Linked DNA regions of Homo sapiens: regions 1, 2, 3 and 5 are each linked to region 4. The links come from fine-mapping of genetic effects on gene expression. A gene starts in region 4. Each other region holds a variant in brackets. All regions are shown on one strand. Distances are between the middles of the regions.

Region 1 (4,117 bases), 89 kb before region 4:
CTTAGGTCAGGTTCATGATTTAAGGTCTAGGCAGAACCGACAGGATGTGAACAAAGGGAACAAGGACACTTCCTGGGTTCCTGGGTTCTGCCTTCAGTACGTGGACGGATGAGTGAGACCAGAAGAAGTAAAAGTTTAGGGGGCAAAATCAGGAGCTCAGTTCTGGACCTCCCAAGCTGAAGATGCTGGTGACACGCTCAAGCGATAGGGACAAGGAGGTGGCCATACCATGAAATCAGAAGGGAGCTCAGGGCCAGAGATCCACTGTCCATAATATCACCAGGGAGAAGACAGCAGGTGGGGAGGCCTGGGAAGCAGCCTTGGAGCTGCAATGTTTTGAACGGCCAGGGAAGTGGGCCAGCAGGGCTCTGAGGAGGGACAAAGGGGTAGGGAGGGGGGCTGGGTGTGATGGCTAAAGCCTGTAATCCCAGCACTTTGAGAGGCCGAGGCGGGTGGATCACCTGAGCTCAGGAGTTTGAGACCAGCCTGGCTAACATGGTGAAACCCCCGTCTCTATTAAAAAATATATATATACAAAAATTAGCCAGGCATGGTGGTGTATGACTGTAATCCCAGCTACTCAGGAGGCTGAGGCAGGAGAATTGCCTTGAACCCGGGAGGTGGAGGTTGCAGTGAGCGGACATTGGTGCCACTGCACTCCAGCCAGGGCAACAGAGCAAGACTCTGTCTCCAAAAAAAAAAAAAAAGAAGTGGATCACTGTGAACGCTGCAGAGAGAAGATGAGGCCACTAGCAAAGCCAGCCTGGGTTTGGCCACTGGCCACGCAAAGACTGTCAGTGACCACACCAGGGAGAGGTGCGTTTGGGCGGCGAAGAGCACAGGCCAGGCTGGCAGGTTGGTGTGCGAGTGTGTGCAAGGTGGAGAAGGCACACGCGGTCAGTCCTTTGGAGAAGTCTGGCACGAGGCCTGCCGAGGAAATGGCCCGGGGGTGTGGCAGGGCGGAGGTCCTGTGCCATGTCCTGCACTGACCAGGGCAGCCCACGGGAAGGCAGCTGCAGAGAAGGCAGAACCCGCAGCTCCAGAAGGTTTGGGGCATGACCAGCAGAGGCCAACTTCTATTGTGAAGAAGAAACCGACTCCCAGACTTTCAGGGAAGGGGGTGTGTTTGGTCTGGTGGCAGTGGGGACAGCAAAGTAGGACCCTTGGGTGTGGCTACGATTGAGAGGATGTCAGGTAGTGTGAGATTCAGGCTGGTGTAGAATCACTCATGAGAAAGTATCTAAAATCTTCCAGATGACAGTGCTACCAGCTGGACAGCTGACAGTGGGCGCTGGCTCTTTCAAAACAGTGCTCCAAAGGCAAAGAAATAGCAAAGACAGAAGTAAGGCACTTAACTATTTGTTGGGTGAATATAGAAATGAATGAATGAATGGATGGATGAGCAGATACATCAAGAAGTTAATTCACAAATTAAAGCCCATTATGAAACTAAAGTAGAGGCTGGGCGCGGTGGATCACGCCTATAATCCCAGCACTTTGGGAGGTCAAGGCAGGTGGATCACCTGAGGTCAGGAGTCTGAGACCAGCGTAGGCAACATGGTGAAACCCTGTCTCTACTAAAAATACAAAAATTAGCTGGGCATGGTGGCGTCACCTGTAGTCCCAGCTACTCGGGAGGCTGAGACAGGAGAACTACTTGAACCCGGGAGGCGGACATTGCAGTGAGCTGAGATCACGCCATTGCACTCCAGCCTGAGCCAACAACAGCAAGACTCCGTCTCAAAAAAAAAAAAAAAAAAAAAGTTAATCCTGCAATGACCATACACCCAGAAACCCCAATCATGGATATTTACCCTAGAGAAATCAAACCTTATGTTTACAAAAAACGCTGTACGCAAATGTTTGTAGCGGCACTATTCATAATTGCCAAAACCTGGAAACCAACCTAAT[G/A]TCCTTCCCAGGATGAATGGATAAACACACTGTGGTCCCTCCCCACAATGGGGCACTACTCAGCATCACAAGGAATGAACTAGAGACCCATGCAGCATCCAGGACGAATCTCAATAGCTCTAGACTAAGTGGAAGAAACCAGTCTTCAAAGGGTACATGCTGTGTGGTTCCATTTTAATGACAGGCTCCCAAAGGCAAAACTACAGGGAATGGATAGTTGTTGCTGGGTCGGCAGGGGCCTGGAGGCAGGGAACTTAAGGCCGATTCACCCTGACTTTTTAGAACTGAATCAAAAGGAAAACCATACCCAGGTAACAAAAGGATCAGAGGCTACTACTCCCTTTGCACCTCGTGGCAGATGAAAAATGGAAAGTACCTCTGATTGGTTCCCTCCCGCAACCAACCAGACTGGTCCCAGGCCAGGTCTTCAGGTGTAACGTTGCAACTTCACTTCAACCTCTGATTGGTCGCCTCCTGCAACCAATCAGACTGGTCACAGGCCACTCCTTCACTTACATAGGGTGTAACCAAGTAACCAATGGTAAACCTCTACAGGGTATTAAGGCTCCAGAAAATTCTCTAATCAGCCACTTGCTCCTGCTCGAGCCTGCTCCCACTCCGTGGAGTGTACTTTCATTTCAGTAAATCTGTGCTTCCCTTGCTTCGTTTTCTCGTTGCTTTCTTTGTGCATTTTGTCCAATTCTTTGTTCAAAATGCCAAGAATCTGGTTAAGAACCCAGACAACTTGTAGTCAAGACCCTCCACTGGTAACACCCATAAAGGGTGTATTAGTCTGTTTTCACACTGTTCATAAAGACTTTATAATTATCCGAGACTGGGTAATTACGAAGGAAAGGTTTAACTGGCTTGCAGTTCCCCATGGCTAGGGAGGCCTCACAATCATGGCAGAGGGCAAGGAGGAGCAAGTCACGTCTTCCATGACGGCAGGGAAGAGAGAGAGTGTGTGCAGGGGAACTCCTCTTTATAAAACCATCAGATCAACTGGACGTGGTGGCTCACGCCTGTAATCCCAGCACTGTGGGAGGCCGAGGTGGGCATATCACCTGAGCTCAAGAGTTCGAGACCAGCCTGGCCAACATGGTGAAACCCCATCTCTACTAGTAAAACAAAAATTAGCTGGGTGTGGTGGTCCATGCCTGTAATCCCAGCTACTTGGGAGGCTGAGGCAGGAGAATCGCTTGAACCCAGGAGGCAGAGGTTGTGGTGAGCCAAGATCATGCCATTGCACTCCAGCCTGGGTGACAAGAGCAAAATTCCGTTTCAAAAAAAAAAAAAAGAAAAAAAACCCATCAGATCTCGTGAGACTTATTCACTATCACGAGAACAGCATGGGAATGACCTGCCCCCACGATTCAATTACCTCCCACTGGGTCCCTCCCACAACATGTGGGAATTGTGGGAGTCACAATTCAAGATGAGATTTGGGTGGGGACACAGCCAAATCATATTAAAAGGTCAACCCTTGGGAAAGATTTTTGGGGGGTGATTAAACTGTTCTGTATCCTGATTGTACTGGTGGCTACAAAACCTATACATGTGTTATGATCCTTAGAACCGTATAGCAAGAGAAAAAAGTCAGTTCACAAATGATAATTAGCAAAATAAAATTATACGTTACCATACAATCTTGCAATTCCAATCCAAGCCTCTACTCACGAGAAATGGAAACAACTAAGACTTGCAAGCGATGTTCAGAGCAGCTCTGTTTATTACAGCCAAGACGTGGGAATAATCCACGTGTCCAGCAGCTGGTGAATGGATGGACACACTGTGATATATCCACACCACCGAATTTAACTCACGAAAAAGGACCTAAATACTTGATCTGTGCTACAATACAGAAGAACCTCAAAAACAATAAGCTAATTGAGAAGTCAGCTACAAAAGACTACAATAGTGCATGATTCCAATTATATGAAATGTCTAGAAAAAGCAAATCTATAGACACAGAAAGTAGATTTGTGGTTTGGGACTGGAAGCAGGTATTGCCTGAAACCAGATATGATGGACCTCATGGGATGATGGAAATGTTCTAAAACCAGATGATACCCTAAATTTTCTAAAAATAAAATTGTATACTTTTCACAGCTGAGCTTCATAGTGTGCAAATGATACCTTAGTAAAACTGTCTTTAATAAAAAGTGCTCAATTCGTTATCTATTTTCTTTTTTTCTTTTTTTTTTCT
Region 2 (4,117 bases), 26 kb after region 4:
AGAGCCTGGGTTCTTGATGGCATCAATAGTCATTAATACTGATATGGTTTGGATCTGTGTCCCCACCCAAATCTCATGTTGAAATGTAATCCCCAGTGCTGGAGGTAGGGTCTGGTGGGAGGTGATTAGATCATGGGGCGGTTTCTCATAGTTTAACACCATCTCGCTTTGGTGCTGTTGTTATGATAGTGACAGTGATCGGTGGAGCAGGAACAAGAGAGACAGCACCTCCCCTCTCTCTTTCTCCTGCTTCTGCTTCAACCATGTAGGACAAGCCTGCTTCGCTTCACCTTCCACCATGATTGGAGGTTTCCTAAGGCCTCCCTGGAAGCTGAGCAGATGGCAGCACCACGCTTCCTGTACAGTCTATGGAACTGTGAACAAATTCAATCTCTTTTCTTTATAAATTACCCAGCCTCAGGCATTTCTTTATAGCAATGTGAGAATGAACCAATACAGATACCAGCACCAAAGTGCCTACCGTGAACTTTTTCCTACCCAGGAAAAAGGAATTCTTTATTATCATCAGCCTCTAAAACAGGGCTTTCTGTTACTTGCCTCTGTATGAACTCCAAACTGACACGCTATCTAATTTATGCTGAGAGCACAGCTAGGGAACATGCCCAGGCATGCGGCTTTTACCTACTGAGCTGGACAAGATTGTGGAAGTGAAAGTAAAATTTGAAGATTGGATGAAAGATGTTAAAATCATGGGAAGGCTGAATAATTTGAGAATACTCAGACATCTCATAGGTGAGGAAAATGACAGTATTAACATTAATACAAAGAAGGTGATCAGTCAAAACATTCCTCACGAGAAAAGGTCCTTTGGCAAATACTTTCCTTTAAAGTAAATGAATATAACAGGCCAGGCACAGGGCTCACGCCTGTAATCCCAGCACTTTGGGAGGCTGAGGTGGGCGGATCACCTGAGGTCAGGAATTGGAGACCAGCCTGGCCAACATGGCAAAACCCCATCTCTACTAAAAAATACAAAAATTAGTCAGGAGTTGTGGCGCACACCTGTAGTCCCAGCTACTTGGGAGGCTGAGGTGGGAGAATCGCTTGAATCTGGGAGTCGGAGGTTGCAGTGAGCTGAGATCTCACCACTGCACTCCAGCCTGGGCGGCAGAGTGAGACTCCACCACAGCCAAAAAAAAAAAAAAAAGAAAGAAAAAGTGAATGAGACTGACTAGTTAATCAAGCCTTTCCAGCCTTCCACATGAGCCCAATAAATTGACCTCTCAGCCTGAAGACGCATCTGTGGAAATTTCCACCAATGATAACCTGAAGAGTTTGCTCCTGCCGCCTCGTGGGCAGCACGCCAGGCGTCTTCCCTCAGTAGTTAAGTCAACCTGGCTCATAAAGCAATGGAACAAATGCGATTTGTGTCCCCATATCTTGCGGAAGCCAAAGTAGAGAAAATAGCCTAGATCTTTTCACCGATTTTCTGCGTCAATCCTCTTTGATTAAGTATCCGCGCTATCCACTTCAATGAAGCTATGGCCCCATGAATAATACTGTGGTCTGTTGCCATACTCATAATGGAAGGACATAAAAATGTCCCTATTTGGAATTCATAAAAATGAAGATGCAATTTTTTTCCATCCAAAAATGGCTAATAGAGGTTCGTGAGTTGTCTCCATTTTCCTCCCTCAACGGTCCGTTCCTGAGCAAATCATTTCTTTGGGCTCTATCACATTTACGTCGTTCATACATGATACCCAAGCAGGTGCGAGAATGCACCATCTTTCATTGATGAAAATGATCCAATTGGCCAGGCGCGGTGGCTCACGCCTGTAATCCCAGCACCTTGGGAGGCTGAAGCAGGCAGATTGCTTGAGCCCAGGAGTTCGAGACCAGCCTGGACAACATGGCAAAACCCCATCTCTGTTTTTTAAAAATATATTTATTTAAAAGAAATAATAATAAAATGATCCAATTGCCTTCCAAACTGCTTTTCCAGGAAGCAGTTGGATGGATCATGTTGAGATGGTGTGGTTTCTGTGGCAACAAGTCAAACTGTGACACCCAAAGGATTAGACTTCTCACCTGGGCCCCAATATGGTAACCCATGAAAGAACCAGCCTTAGGCTTCCACGACGTCAACACTCATGCTTGCTGCCACCTCCAAGCCCCACCCATCCCCTCTGCCCTTGGTTCCACACCCCCAGCTACACGCTGACAAAGATGCTGGGCTAGAGACACCCAGCTCGCCAGACACACCCAGGATGCTCTCACCACTTCCCAGAGCCAAATGCCCTGGCTGCAAAACAGAGAAGCGAAACCTAGAAATAATCAAGGCTTGTTTCCAGACCTTCAGAGTTCTC[A/G]CACCCTGCCCTGTCTTGTGTGTGTGTAGATACAGATATAGACAAGATATCATCTGTAGGTAGAGATGTAAATATAGACATAGCTCAGCTATTACTCGGGAGGCCGAGGCATGACAATCGCTTGAACCTAGGAGGCAGAGGTTACAGTGAGCCAAGATTGCACCACCGCACTCCAGCCTGGGCAACAGAGTGAGACTCCGTCTCGAAAAAAAAAAAAAGATGTATCTCAGCTAGACACTTTACACAGATTTTCTGATTTAATCCTATCAATGTGAGAAGTATTATCTGTTTTATTGATGAGAAAAACAGATTTACAGAGTTTCGTTTGTTCATTTTTTTGGTGGGTGGACAGTGTCTTGCTCTGTTGCCCAGGCTGGTGTGCAGTGGTGTGATCACGGCTCACTGCAGCCTCAAACTACTGGACTCAAGAGATCCTCCTGTCTCAGCTTCCCAAGTACCTGGGACCACAGGCATATGCCACCATGCCTGGCTATTTTTTTTTTATTTTGTTTTGTAGAGATGGGGTCTTGCTATGTTGCCCAGGCTGGACTCAAACTCCTGGCCCCAAGCAATCCACCTGCCTTGGCCTCCCAAAGTGTTGGGATTACAGGCATAAGCCACCGTGCTCGGCCCCAAGAGATTTTTTTCTTCAACCTTACCAAGCTCACCAGCTGACAGGAGGTAAAGGTGAGGGTCGCAGTGGCTTTGAGGACTCCGCAGTCACCACGGTGCACTCCTTCCATCTCACTTTCATCAAGCACCTAGAGCCCCACCCTAGGCCATGTCAGGTCTCCTGCTATTTCTCAGGCTGGCCCGACACCGTCACGACTCCATCTCTGTATCCAGGGCTGGCACCAGGTTCCTCTCCCAAGGCTCTCTCCCTGCTTCTTTTGAGATCCTCCTCATATAAGAGGCTTCAGATAAGTGCCGCCTCGGATGCCAGGCCGGATGTTCTGCCGGAAGCTTCACTCACCGAGTCAGAGGTTCATGGGCTGGCTCTTGATCCTCACCCTCAGAACCTAGTTCTGAAAGAGTAGGCATGTGAGTGATTCTATTTTTTTTTTTTTACAGACGGGATCTTGCTATGTTGCCCAGGCTGGTCTCAAACTCCTGACCTCAAGTGTTCCTCCACGGCCTCCCAAGTGGTGGGATCATTGACTTTATATCTTCAAGTTTAGCTCAGGAGGCTCCGACAGAGCAGGCAGCCAAGGCATGCTGGTTGAATAAATGAACAAACTCAGCAATGTTTTTGCACCCCACAAACACTGGTGGACAGTATCACCTTTGAAAAATCATTGATTATATCATAATTGCAAAAATTTAGGTCACCAACTAGATTACAAACACACGATTTTGATAAAATATATGTAACCTAAAATTTACCATTGTAACCATTTTTAAAATGTGCAATTCAGTGACATTAAGTATATTCACATTGTTGGCCGCGCGTGGTGGCTCACGCCTGTAATCCAGCACTTTGGTAGGCCGAAGCTGGTGGATCTCTTGAGGCCAGGAGTTAGAGACCAGCCTGGCCAACATGGTGAAACCCCATCTCTACTAAAATACAAAAATTAGCCAGGTGTGGTGGCACTCGCCTGTAATCCCAGCTACTCCGGAGGCTGAGGCAGGAGAATCACTTGAACCTGGGAGGCAGAGGTCGCAGTGACCCGAGATCGCACCACTGCGCTCCAGCCTGGGTGACAGAGAGAGACTCCATATCAAAAAAAAAAAAAAAGAAAAAGTATATTCACATTGTTGTGCAACCATCACCACCATCTATCTTCAAA
Region 3 (4,117 bases), 110 kb before region 4:
CATGTAGAAACACCCAGTGGCCAAGCAGCCCGGGGTTCTGAATAATAGATGAAGGTAAACTCAGGAAGACCAGCCACGCAGGTGCGCTCCAGGGAGGCCTTTCAGAGATGTACTAAGATGCTTTCACAGCTCAAATGGTTCCCTGATCAGAAGTAATGTGATACAAGTAATTCAATTTTGGGTTTTCTTTTCTTTTCGAGATGGAGTCTCACTCTATTGCCCAGTCTGAAGTGCAGTGGCGTGGTCTCAGCTCACTGCAACCTTCACCTACTAGGTTCAAGGGATCCTCCTGCCTCAGCCTCCTGAGTGGCTTAGGACTACAGGCATATGCCACCACACCTGGCTAATTTTTGTATTTTTAGTAGAGATGGGGTTTCACCATGTTGGCCAGGCTGGCCTTGAACTCCTGACCGCAGGTGATCTCTCTGCCTCGGCCTCCCAAAGTGTTGGGATTACAGGCATGAGCCACTGAGCCCAGTTGGGTTTTCTTTTTCTTCATGAAGATGTTGGAAAAGCTGTTTTTATTGATATATGGCATCTAGATCCACTCATCACCCACAGGGTTCATGAGAAAATGGAAAGCAAATGCCTGCTGGAGCGCTGACGTCACATTCAACAGGCCAAGGCACACATGCTCCCGTGTCATACAAGTGACTTGGTTACGGCCGAGAGCATCCAACCCACAGCAATGCTCAGCCGCAATCACTGTGAGAATCTCCCTCGAATCGGAACCGTGGAGAAGATGGGACCTTCCCCAGAGAGTCAGTGACTTCCTGCAGGCAAGCTGGGACCGTCTCTCGGCCCCTCCCAGTCCTCCATGGCTCCGTCTGTGGTCACTGTCCCTGCTCTGCGTGGAGTGAAGGCGTGCGTGCCGAGTGTGAGCGAGGCTTCTTCTCAGCCCTGGCGTCCACAGGCACCATTCCGGCTCATCTCCCAGCAATCCCGAGAGGTCTCTTCCTTATCACCACCGCACTGAAGAGGAAAACTCTCACTTAGAGGAATTAAGTGTGTGTTTGCTCTTTCTTTTCTTTTTTTTTTTTTTTTTTTGAGACAGTGTCTCATTCTGTCACCCTGGTTGGAGTGCAGTGGCATCATCACAGCTCACTGCAGCCTCTAACTCCTGGGCTCAAGCGATCTTCCTGCCTCAGCTGTCTGAGTGGCTAGGACTACAGGCATGAGCCACTGCACCTGGCTGCAGTTTCTTCACAGTCGCAAAGCCAAGGCTTGAGAAGGGTCTTGCTTCAAGTTGCGCCCCTGCCCGCCGTGGTCCGCCTCCCCTCCGCGACGCTGACAGTGGCGTCCTCATGTCTAATGCTTACTCCTTGGTTTCCTTCTTGACCTCTCCTTCCTTCACTCGGGCAGTATCTGTCCCCCACATTATGCAATGTCAGGGCCCTTAGGATGAGGACCTCTCACTGCTGGTCATTTCAAGAACCCAAGGCCAGGCACAGTGGCTCATGACTGTAATCCCAGCATTTTAAGAGGCCAAGGCAGGAGGATGGTATAACCCCAGGAGTTGGCAACCATCCTGGGCAATATAGCAAAAAAAAAAAAATTTAAAAATTAGCTAGGCATAGTGGCACATGCCTGTGGTCCTAGCTACTCAGCAGGTTGACTTGGGAGGATCACTTGAGCCTGAGAGTTTCGAGCTGCAGTGAGCTAAGATCATACCACTGGTACTCTAGCCTGGGCAACAGAGCGAGATCCCATCTCTTTAAAAAAAAAAAAAAAAAAAAAAGAAGCCAACACTTGGGTGTAGAAAGGGTTCCCTTTGAGCTATGACTTCAGGACCAAAGCCCTGGCCTTTGACATCACTATCATTTCCTGGTAGGTCGTTACAGTACACAGGTTATGTTACATTAGATAAGAATTTTCCAGCTATGACCTAGGAGATGACTTAAGGTCACAGAGGACACACATGCTAAGGGCAGGAAATAAACCCTTCGTGGGCGCTGCCCTGGTTCTACACAGTTCTGCTCGGGCTTCTGACTTCAGTCCTTCGCCTGGCTCTGCAGAGCTGCATCGCTCCATGTGTTTAATTAAAGAATTAAAAAGCCAAAAAGAAACTGTTAATTACTACATGCCAGGCACCATGCTCGACACTTGGGAAATATTTAAGTTATTTAACACTCAGTCTCTGAATGCAAAGAGCT[C/T]CCAGGAAGACGCATAAGAAACAAAGATTTAAGATCGTGTATGTTACAGCCAAGTGGGACAGACTGAAGGGACTGAGAATTTGGAGACGAGGGAACAGCGTTATCAGCTGCGGAGGCACGGGAAGGCGTGGTGGAGCTGAACGGTGAATGCAGACAGGAGTTCAGGGGAAAGAGAAGCCATGAGTATCTCAAGTGAGCAGCAGCAGGAACAGGACACACGTGAAAATCTACGCATGCTCCTTCAGGGAACGTTTCCTGAACACCTTTTCTCTAATGTATTGGTCCTTGGCATGAAACTCCTTTTACTACATGAGCATTCCCCCAAAAGGTGTGACCACATTAGCCCTGCAAGGTGCAGCTTGAAAAAAAACAATTGTGCTCAAAGAGGCCTGAGAATGCTGTATATACCGCGTCCTCCTCTGAAGGCCTAGCTACTGTCTACTAGCCTAGTGAAGGCTCCGAGAAGTCCTGCAGTAAAGAAACCCTTTCTGTGTTGAATATCCCAAGCTTCCCGAATTTACTTTACCACTGAGCACCCTCCTCCCTTTTTTTGGAGACAGGACAAGGTCTCACTCTGTGGCCTAAGCTGGAGTGCAGTGGCAAAATCATAGCTCATGCAGCCTAAATTCCTGGGCTCAAGTGATCCTCTTGGCTCAGCCTCCCAAGTAGCTGGGACCGCAGGCACAGGCCACCAAGCCCAGTTAATTTTTAAAATTTTTTTGTAGAGATGATGTCTTGCTACGATGACCAGGCTGGTCTGGAAATCCTAGCCTCAGGCATCCCTCCCACCTCGGCCGCCCACAGCACCAGGATTACAGGCGTGAGCCACCATGCCCGGCCTTCTGTCAACTTGATAGATCACAAGATTCTCAGAAACTTTCAACAATATTTGGAAAATCTCCACATGCCAAGAAGATACGCTAAATGGTTTTTGCTCATTCCGACCAAAACAAATATATATGACTAGAGTGCAATGTAGTGTAGAATCGCCATTGCTAAAACCGTGGTCACTAAACCCGTGAGCATGTGATATGGTGAACTCTGCGACCGCATCCCCTAACGGACAGAAACACACATATGTGGAAGCTAAAATGGCAAACACAACGAATTATATATTTTTGGCTCGGGGCTGTCTTTCACGACTTAAATACAGCTCAGTTTGCAGGCTGGAGGAAACAATTCTTCCCCAAATAGCAAAACCATTCCCGATTCCACCCCACGCCAGCCCCTCCCTGCCCGGGTCCGCTGTCTAGGAGCCCAGAGCTCCATTTTCTGACTCCTGCACAACGTCAGCCCAGGCAAGGCGGCTGTCTCTAAAGTTTGCAGGCATCCAGGGAATCTCAGATACATGAGCTTTACACATGTGCCAAGAGTACAGGGAAGAGAGGGTCCAACACCACTGTCCCGGTGGTTTTCACCCAGGGGTGACTCTGCACCCCCAGGGGACACTGGGCCATGTCTGGAGACATTTTTGGTTGGCACAGCTGGGGAGTAGGGTACGGGTGGGTATGCTGCCATCTGGCAGGTGGCGGCTAGGGATGCTGCCAGCCATCTGACAGTGCACAGGACAGCCCCACAACACATGACTACCTGGTCCAAAATGCCAGCGGTGCCAAGGTGAGAAGCCCTGCATTACACTAACAAAGCACCCAACGACCGCGATCCACGAGCGGAGTTGACAGAACCCGAGTGCAATCATTACGTGTAACTGGGCGACAGGCACTATGTATTCTGACCCAGTAAGTAATCTGCATACCCCAGCTGACTGCCACATAATGAAGACTGTTCCTCGTAAATACCAATAGCGGCTTTCAAACCTGTGAATGAATGTGGAGAGGCAGGGACGTATTGGGTGAAGCTGTAACCACTGGCCGCCATCCTCACACATACCCCACTGTGTTATCTGAGAACACAAAGCAGCATAGGAGAGCTGTTTTGATTCTCTGTCTCATTTTAAGAATGGA
Region 4 (4,117 bases):
CGATGGCCTTGATCATGCCCAGGCCCATCTCGATGCAGCAGTAGGCATGGTCGGCCCGGGGCTCGGGACAGCCCGCCACGCAGTAGTAACAGTCTCCCAGGGTGCTGATTTTCTCACACTTGGTCTCCTCACACAGGCGGTCGAAGCGACCGAACAGATCGTTCAGGAGACCCACCAGGGCGTGGGCAGACTTGTTGGCACTCATCTTGGTGAAGCCCACGATATCTGCAAATAAAATACTGACTTCTTCGATCTGCTGCATCTTAAAAGGGCGGAAGGCTATAGGAGCTTTTTGGATGGAAGACTTTTTCTTCCTGTTCTTGGGGCTCGAGGTGGCATGCCTCTTGACAGAATTCTCACTCTCCTCATCTCCCTGCTTCATTAAGTCATCGGCTATGATTCTTGGCATCACGGAATGAATCATCCTCTCTTTGAGGGCTTTTTCCACTTCCAGGTCCTTCCCGTGCATAATGGATTGCCCCACCTTGAGGAAGGTGCTCCTGGACCTCACCTGGGACATGACGAACAGGTGGACCCCGATGGCGTGGATGCAGCCGTGGAGCAGCCCCCTGCTCAGCAGCTCCCAGTGCAGGGCCCCGGCTCCGGGCGAGGGGAAGCAGGCTTCATCCCGGAAATGGTAGCCAAAGGTCTCGAAAAGGACAGAGTAGGCCACCCCCAGACACAAACTCAGGTACAAAGGTAAGTGCATGACGGTATAGAGCAAAAAGAGCACTTCGATGCACATGGAGAAGCTCCCCACTTGAGATAAGCAAGTATCTGTGGGCCGGGCTGTGGCCGTAAGGTTGGAGCTGTCGCCGCGTCCTGAGACAGGCGTCAAGACCTGGAACTGCGCAGCCAGGGTCAGGGCGAACACCAGCAGGGTGAGAGCCAGCGAGGTCCACGCGTAATGCCGGGCGTACAGCTTGGTGAAGGTAAACAGAAAGAAGCCCACACACACCAGGAGGAAGCACAGCGCGGGGGCGACCATGACGATCAGTCTGGATCTCATGTGGACCGCAAAATAGATGCTCCACAGAAGGCAGGCGAAGCCGATGTAGAAGAGCGCATACCGGAACCGGCGCTGGGTCTGCGGGAAGCAGCGCTCCAGGCAGGCCTCCTCCAGGTTCACCGAGTCGAACTTGGGGTCCCACCAGCGGCTGGAGGCCCTCTCGAACAGCTGGGGCAGCTTCTTCTGCCTGCGCAGCCGGCCTCCGCCGCCCACTCGCCGGGGGACGCCCCCGGAGTCCCCAGAGCTGCTGCAGCTAGAGGAGATGCTGTATTTGCAGTGCTTGGGGTGGCTGTTGGAGGACAGCTGCTTGGGGTTGATCTTGACGCGCACGCTGTTGCTGTCCCCGCTGGAGTCGCAGCTCACCTCGGTGCTGTGGTGATGCAGCAGCTGCTGGTGGGGTGGGGAAGCCATGTTGTCGAGTCCCGGGGCCTGCCCCGGCCGGGGTCACCAGTACCTGCCAGCAAAACGGGGAGAGTTAGCGGCGCTCCCACCTAGGCATGCACGCCTAGAGGCCCGGGACCTGCTCCTGTCCTAAGGGGCGGCTCCAGCACGCGACCTGGACAGGCACCATCTGTTCCTGTGGTTCCCGGCTCAGCGGTGCTCCCACCGCCCCCACCGCCCCCACCTTCGAGGCGCACGAGAACCGCTCGGGACGGACCTAGAACGCCCGGGGGTCCCCGCCGCGTGGCCGCCGTGGCTCCGGGACCGCTTTGCTCGCTCGCCTTCCGCGCCTCTCGCCCCGAGGGTGGCCTCCGCGCCGCGCGGCTTCTCCTCCTCGCGCGCTCGCCTCCTCCAGCTGCGGCTCCGGAGGGAAGTTCAGACCTTGAGCGCTCCCAGCCCCGCGAGCCGCCTGCGCACAAACAACTCCGCTGGCGGCGCGGAGCCCTCCATCCTGCAGGAGCCGCGCTCCGATGCGTCAAAGGCGGCGCGCGGCCGGCCCCGGGCCCGGACCCCGACCCGGAGCAGCGAGCTTCGGCGGGCGCCCCCGGCTCGCGCTCCCCGGCCGCCCCCCGCGCTCCGGGCCGGCCCTGCCCGCGGCGGCGGGCGCTGGGGGTGGGGGCGCCCCGGGCTGCGAGTGCGCGGAGCCCGTCGGCGCGGCCCGTCTAGTGGGGCCTGCTTCCCCCCGAGTGCGCCGCCGCTCCCGCCGCGGCCGCAGCTGTCCCGGGACCGAGCGCGTGGAACCACGGACGCGGGCCCCTCGCCGGGCGGCGGTGCAGACGCTGCCGCAGAGCCGGGCTCCCGCGACGCCGGCCGGGACGCCCGCCCGCCCGCGCCCACGCCGGGGGCCGCCTCCCCGAGCTAGAGATGCGGCCGCCGCCGCGCCCGCCGCCGTGTCCCCCGCGGCCGCTGCCTCATGTCGGAAGAGCTGCCGCCGCCACCATCTCCGGCCCCTGCCCCGCCCGCTGTCACTGACAGACGCGCGCCCGCGCCGCCCCTCGCCCAGCCGCAGCGCGCACGCGCGGCCCGCGCTCGCCGCCACCGCCTCCTGGCCCCGGACACGCGCACGGGCCGCGCGCCGCCCCGCCTTGGTGCGCGCGCTGGGCTGGGGCTGCGGGGCGGGGCGGGGCGGGGCGGGGCGCGCGCTCGGCTCCGCCCCCCGCCCCGGGCGGCGCCGCTTCTAGGCGGCGGGCTGTGGCCGCTGTCCGCGCTCCGGGCGCTGTGGGCCCGCCCTCCCTCGGCGTCCCAGAGGCCGCGCGCCGCCCGGGGTCCCGACCCTGCGGAGAGACCTGAAGGCGCCTGCCGTGGAAGAAGCCGCTGGCCGCAACGTTTGGGAAATCAAAATGTTGCCTTCCCACTCGGCACGCCTTTGGGATAAATCGAAGTTTCCAACCGTTGGATTTCCCTCCCGGGAGGCTCCCCTTGCTCTGTAAGCAATGAATGCGGGCCCCGGGGCACTCGGCCTGCCCTGGACCTGCTCACGGGGCGACCTTCACGGGCCTAGCCTCCAAAGCTGGGCCCACCGACGACCACGTTCCCCCGCCCCAGGGGTAGTTTACCTTGCTGTCCTTGAGCCCTTCTCCCCCTCCTCATGAACTACTGCTTTTCCTTTTACACAAATGAGACTTTCAAAGGAGTCCGCGTCCCATAATGGCAGTTGTGCATTGGCCTCCATAAACATTGCCACGTGTAAATAAAATCCTATTCTCTCTAGCATGCAGATCCCGACCCCTTCTCCCCACACTCCACAGTGCCTCCTGCCAGTCACGGGGCTCTCTTCCATCCCCTCCCTCGCCTCCCAGGCCCAGCGCCGGGGCCCACACCAGGTCTCACTGTTGAATTAGAAAATAAAAGTAAAATGTGATCTGTCCATGCAATGGAATATTATTCGGCTACAAAAAGGAATGGAGCACCGATGCATGCTGCAGTGTGGAGGAACCCGGGAAACGTTATGCTAGTGAAAGAAGCCAAACAAAAAAGGCCACATAGCGTATGATTCCATCCAGATGAAATGTCTCGAATTGGCAAATCCGTAGAGGCGACACAGATTGGAGGTTGCCAGGTGCTAGGGGAGGAAGATAAGCAGCTTGGGGTTTCGTTTTAGGATGATGAAAAAGTCTAGAAATGATCCAACAGGATGAATCTACATACTGCCCTTGAATCATACACTTTAAAGTGGTTTAGGCCGGGAGCGGTGGCTCACGCCTGTAATCCCAGCACTTTGGGAGGCCGAGGTGGGCGGATCACCTGAGGTCGGGAGTTCGAGACCAGCCTGACCAACACGGAGAAACCCCATCTCTACTAAAAATACAAAAATTAGCCGGACGTGGTGGCACATGCCTGTAATCCCAGCTACTCGAGAGGCCGAGGCAGGAGAATTGCTTGAACCCGGGAGGCGGAGGTTGTGGTGAGCTGAGTTCGCACCATTACACTCCAGCCTGGGCAACAAGAGTGAAACTCCATCTCAAAAAATAATAATAAAATAAAATAAAGTGGTTTAAATGGTAAATGTTATGTTGAGTGTATTTTACCACAATAAAGGAGGAAAAAACTAAAAGCAACATATTGTGGTGGTATTCCTGCAGAAGTGTGTAATCTCAATCCAATCGCAAGAAAACACCAGACAAACCCAGATTGAGACCTGTTCTACAAAGTGATTAACCAGTACCC
Region 5 (4,117 bases), 130 kb before region 4:
CCCTTCCATGGCAGGTGGGGGGGGTTCCTTTACCAGGGCAGGTGTGGGGGCCCCTTCCAAGGCAGGTGGGGGGGTTTCCTTCCAGGGCAGGTTGGGGGTTTCCTTTCAGGACAGGTTGTGGTGGGGGGGCCCCTTCCAAGGCTGGGGATAGCCTGGAGATGCCACGGCAGAGGAAAGGGGCTAGTAATGGCGAGGCTGCGCTTTAAGACAAAGGACTAAAGAAAGGGTTTTTTTCCTCCTTTGCAAAGAGACATTTCATGTACAGTTGCCACTTAGGGTTTACAGAGTGTGGGAAATCAATGTTCGCCTTCGTGTTCCCATCCCTTGGTAAAGCACAAAACTAACAGTGAATGACCATGTGAGAACAACAAACACATTCTTTAGTAAAAGCGCAAGGAGAAATGAACGCACCTCTTCCTGATAGCTGGTCCTGTAGGATCGCTCCAGCTCCTGATCCAGGAAGTTCAGGCTGAACTGATTAATGGGCGGCTTAAAAAAGTAATCTTTCATCAGGCTAGAAGACACAACAAATGCAGTCGATCAATACCCAGCACCATAACTGTGCCAATGTTTTCAGATCATAATTAGCTACCAAAACGCTGCTCATTAGGTATATTACAACAGCTGCGTCTAAAAGCGCCTGTGGAACAGACGCCACTCAGCTGCCCCTTGTTAAAACAGATCTGTGGAAAGTCCTTCGCACCTCAAAGCATAATCATATTTTGTGTTTCACCTTCGTTAAAGAATGACCATCCACCATGATTATAGCACACATCATCAGAACCTTGGTTTTTTGGGGTTTTTTTTTTTTGAGGCAAGGTCTCACTCTGTCGCCCAGGCTGGAGTGCAATGGCGCAGCGATCTTGGCTCACTGCAATCTCCGCCTCCCAGGTTCAAGCAATTCTCCTGCCTCAGCCTCCTGAGTAGCTGGGATTACAGGCGCCTGCCACCGCACCCAGCTAATTTTTGTATTTTTTAGCAGACGCGGGGTTTCACCATGTTGGTCAGGCTGGTCTCGAACTCCTGGGCTCAAGAGATCCACCCATCTCGGCCTCCCAAAGTGCTGGGATGACAGCGTGAGCTGCTGAGGCTTGTTTTTGAAAACACATTCCTAATGTCTAGGATTAGGAGAAGATGAAGGCAGCTTTTCTGTTCTTTGAAACAATCTTTTGTGAAGAACACGCAGATCACTGTGCTGAGAGTACTTACATGGATTTGGAGGCTTCAAACGAAAACATAATTCAGAACCGGCGGTCCTGTCATTCAGAGCACTGACAGTAATTGCCACCGTAAAAGCTAACAGGTTGTTATCACAAAATTGTGTTTATAGTTAGCGTAATTTTGGTGCTATTGTCACATATGCAGATTGCATGTGAAACCTGCAGAATGATAAAGCTCAGTGATTTTAATAGCAGGGAAATCAACCCCGCTTTCCATGACTCTTTCATTCATTTATGAATTGCCAGCAAATAGTAATATCCTTTCTATACTGCAGAAAATTACTAGAAACTAAGGGAACGTTAACATGATTTCAGAAAGCAAATATAGCTGTGTTAGCCTCTCTCCCTCATACAGTGACTATCAGAAGTAAATTAGACGAGGCTGGGC[G/A]CGGTGGCTCATCCTTGTAATCCCCAGACCTTTGGGAGGCCGAGGCAAGCGGATCACCTGAGGTCAGGAGCTCGGGACCAGCCTGGCCAACATGGTGAACCCCCGTTTCTACAAAAAATACAAAAATTAGCCAGGCCTGGTGGCAGGTGCCTGTAATCCCAGCTACTCGGGTGGCTAAGGCAGGAGAATCACTTGAACCTGGGAGATGGAGGTTGCAATGAGCCAAGATGGCGCCACTGCATTACAGCCTGGGTGACACAGCAAGACTATGTCTCAAAAAAAAAAAAAAAGAGTAAATCAGGTGAAATATGTCAAGTGCCTCATGTGCCCCCCACACAAAGTACGGCTCATCACGTGTGTTCCTTCCTGTCCTTGCAGCACGGCGGACACTCTCCTTTCTGTGACAGGTATCCAGTAACTTCCAACATTCTCAGACTCAGAAGAGAAATAATTCTGTCCCAGGACACTGACCCTCTCTCCTCCCCTGACTCAGGGAGTGTGGACTGAGGGAAGAGCAACCACGCAGCTGCAGAGAGGATGTGCACAAGGCCACATTTTAGCAGTCAAGTGGCAGAAGCGACACTGCTATTAGCTGTGCTGCTCCATTTATTTCTTATTTGTTTTTTGAGATGGAGACTCGCTCTGTTGCCCAGGCTGGAGTTGCAGTGCTGCGATCTCAGCTCATTGCAGCCTCTGCCTCCTGGGTTCAAGCGATTCTCCTACCTCAGCCTCCTGAGTAGCTGGGATGACAGGCACCCGCCACCACGCCCAGCTAATTTTTGTACTTTTAGTAGAGACGGGGTTTCACCTTGTTGGCCAGGCTGGTCTTGAACCCCTGACTTCAGGTGATCTACCTGCCTCGGCCTCCCAAAGTGTTGGGATTATAGGCGTGAGCCACAGCGCCTGGCTGAAAATCACCCTTTGAGGCATTATAGTGAAGACAGAGGCAAGAATCATCAATGAATGTTAAATCTAGGGAATTCTGATGGGGAATGAAATATGTACAAGATCTTCAAGTATTTTCTCACAGATTGCTTATTAGTCATAAGAGGAATATAATAACCCTAGATGAGACAACCCGGCACCACCTTGCCTAATTAATCAAAATTAGTATCACTAATGAGGAACAGACGGGCACTGCGTGTCCCTGGAGAGGACACCCTGAGGAGGACACGGCATCCCTTCTGCAGTCTCTGCCTGGCCAGAGGGAGAGCCTGAATCTAACCAATCCAACTTCAGGAATATTTGATAAAAGGACTGGACCTGTATTTTTCAAAAATGTTACCATTAGGCCAGGCACAGGCTCACACCTGTAATCCCAGCACTTTAGGAGGCCGAGGCGGGCAGATCACCTGAGGCCAAGAGTTCGAGACCCGCCTGGCCAACATGTTAAAAACCCATCTCTACTAAAAACACAAAAATTAGCTGGGCATGGTTGTGTATGCCTGTAGTCCCAGCTACTTGAGAGACCTAGGCAGGAGAATTACTTGAACCTGGGAGGTGGAGGTTGCAGTGAGCCGAGATTGAGCCACTGCACTCCAGCCTGGGCAACACAGCAAGACCTAGTCCTTATAAAAAAAAAAAAAAAAAAAAAAAAAGCCAGGCGTGGTGGCTCACGCCTATAATCCCAGCACTCTGGGAGGGTGGGGTAGGTGGATCACCCGAGGTCAGGAGTATGGAGACCAGCCTGGCCAACATGATGAAACTCCATCTCTACTAAAAATACAAAACCTAGCCAGGCATGGTGGTGGGTGCCAGTAACCCCAGCTACTTGGGAGGCTGAGGCAGGAGCATCGTTTGAACCTGGGAGATAGAGGCTGCAGTGAGCCAAGATCGCGCCACTGCACTGCAGCCTGGATGACAGAGCGAGACTCAGTCTTAAAGAAAAGAAAAGAAAAAGGCAGAGAGGCTTCTGCCTGCAACCTTTGCTTTTTCCCAGACAGCCCCAGTCGTACCTGTCTTCTTTGATAACGTCCACAAAGTGGGCGTCCGTTTTCTCCCGGATGTTCTTGAACCTCAGCGGAAGGAGAGCCGACTGGTCCAGGCTCACCCCTGCCCACCTTCCCTTCTCCTGCAAGATCTCACACAGAGAAGTCTGACTGTTGGTGAGCTTCTCCTCTTGGGGAGGGCTGAGGAGCCCGTTCTGAGTTTTGGGATTAGGTCCTCCAGAAGCCTGCCTCGAGACAAAGAGGACGCAGACACGGGAAGTGAAGTGGCACCGGGCACTGGGCACACACGCCTGTCCCACCCCGACCTCCGCTGCGGGGCGCTGCTGCACTGGGCGTGGGACTTTCTGACCTGCGAGGAACCCCCACCCCCCTGCGCCTACAGACCTGCTCCAATCCCAGCCCTGACTGCCCGTCTGCTCCTTCCTGTTACCCAACAGTGCCCAGTGGTAACGCTGGGTGTTCAGGCTGCCAGGACATTGAGACATGGGAAGAGTCGGTGCGGAGGTGGAGGGGAAGGGAGGAAAGTGAGGAGCCGAGGCCCCCAGAGTCTGCTTAGGCCA

Evidence for each region. PIP is the estimated chance that this variant, and not a neighbour inherited with it, causes the effect. A credible set is the group of variants that fine-mapping cannot tell apart.
Region 1: its variant is the best candidate, but not a certain one, in a credible set for the expression of ADCY9 in monocytes (BLUEPRINT, PIP 0.57).
Region 2: its variant is the best candidate, but not a certain one, in a credible set for the expression of ADCY9 in cerebellar hemisphere (GTEx, PIP 0.73).
Region 3: its variant is the best candidate, but not a certain one, in a credible set for the expression of ADCY9 in lung (TOPMed, PIP 0.63).
Region 5: its variant is the best candidate, but not a certain one, in a credible set for the expression of ADCY9 in whole blood (TOPMed, PIP 0.65).

Annotation. Positions count from the first base shown.
Region 1 is chr16:4,024,684-4,028,800 of GRCh38, forward strand. All of the region lies in intron 2 of ADCY9 (adenylate cyclase 9), which reads right to left. Among named protein-coding and RNA genes, the nearest start is that of TRIDDENT, 76 kb to the left of the region's middle. RefSeq lists enhancers at 373-874, 875-1,374. The variant G/A (reference allele first, on the strand shown) is at 1,912.
Region 2 is chr16:4,140,256-4,144,372 of GRCh38, forward strand. No RefSeq gene overlaps it. Among named protein-coding and RNA genes, the nearest start is that of ADCY9, 26 kb to the left of the region's middle. The variant A/G (reference allele first, on the strand shown) is at 2,331.
Region 3 is chr16:4,002,536-4,006,652 of GRCh38, forward strand. The region is part of intron 3 of ADCY9 (adenylate cyclase 9); the gene reads right to left. Among named protein-coding and RNA genes, the nearest start is that of TRIDDENT, 54 kb to the left of the region's middle. The variant C/T (reference allele first, on the strand shown) is at 2,154.
Region 4 is chr16:4,114,023-4,118,139 of GRCh38, forward strand. It overlaps ADCY9 (adenylate cyclase 9), which reads right to left and starts at 2,420. Exons shown (of 11, transcript NM_001116.4): 1 at 1,668-2,420; 2 at 1-1,463. The coding sequence starts at 1,420. RefSeq lists a silencer at 2,558-2,627.
Region 5 is chr16:3,988,583-3,992,699 of GRCh38, forward strand. It overlaps ADCY9 (adenylate cyclase 9), which reads right to left. Exons shown (of 11, transcript NM_001116.4): 5 at 3,564-3,781; 6 at 412-514. It overlaps LOC124903633 (a long non-coding RNA gene), which reads left to right and starts at 3,548. Exons shown (of 2, transcript XR_007064956.1): 1 at 3,548-4,117. The variant G/A (reference allele first, on the strand shown) is at 1,609.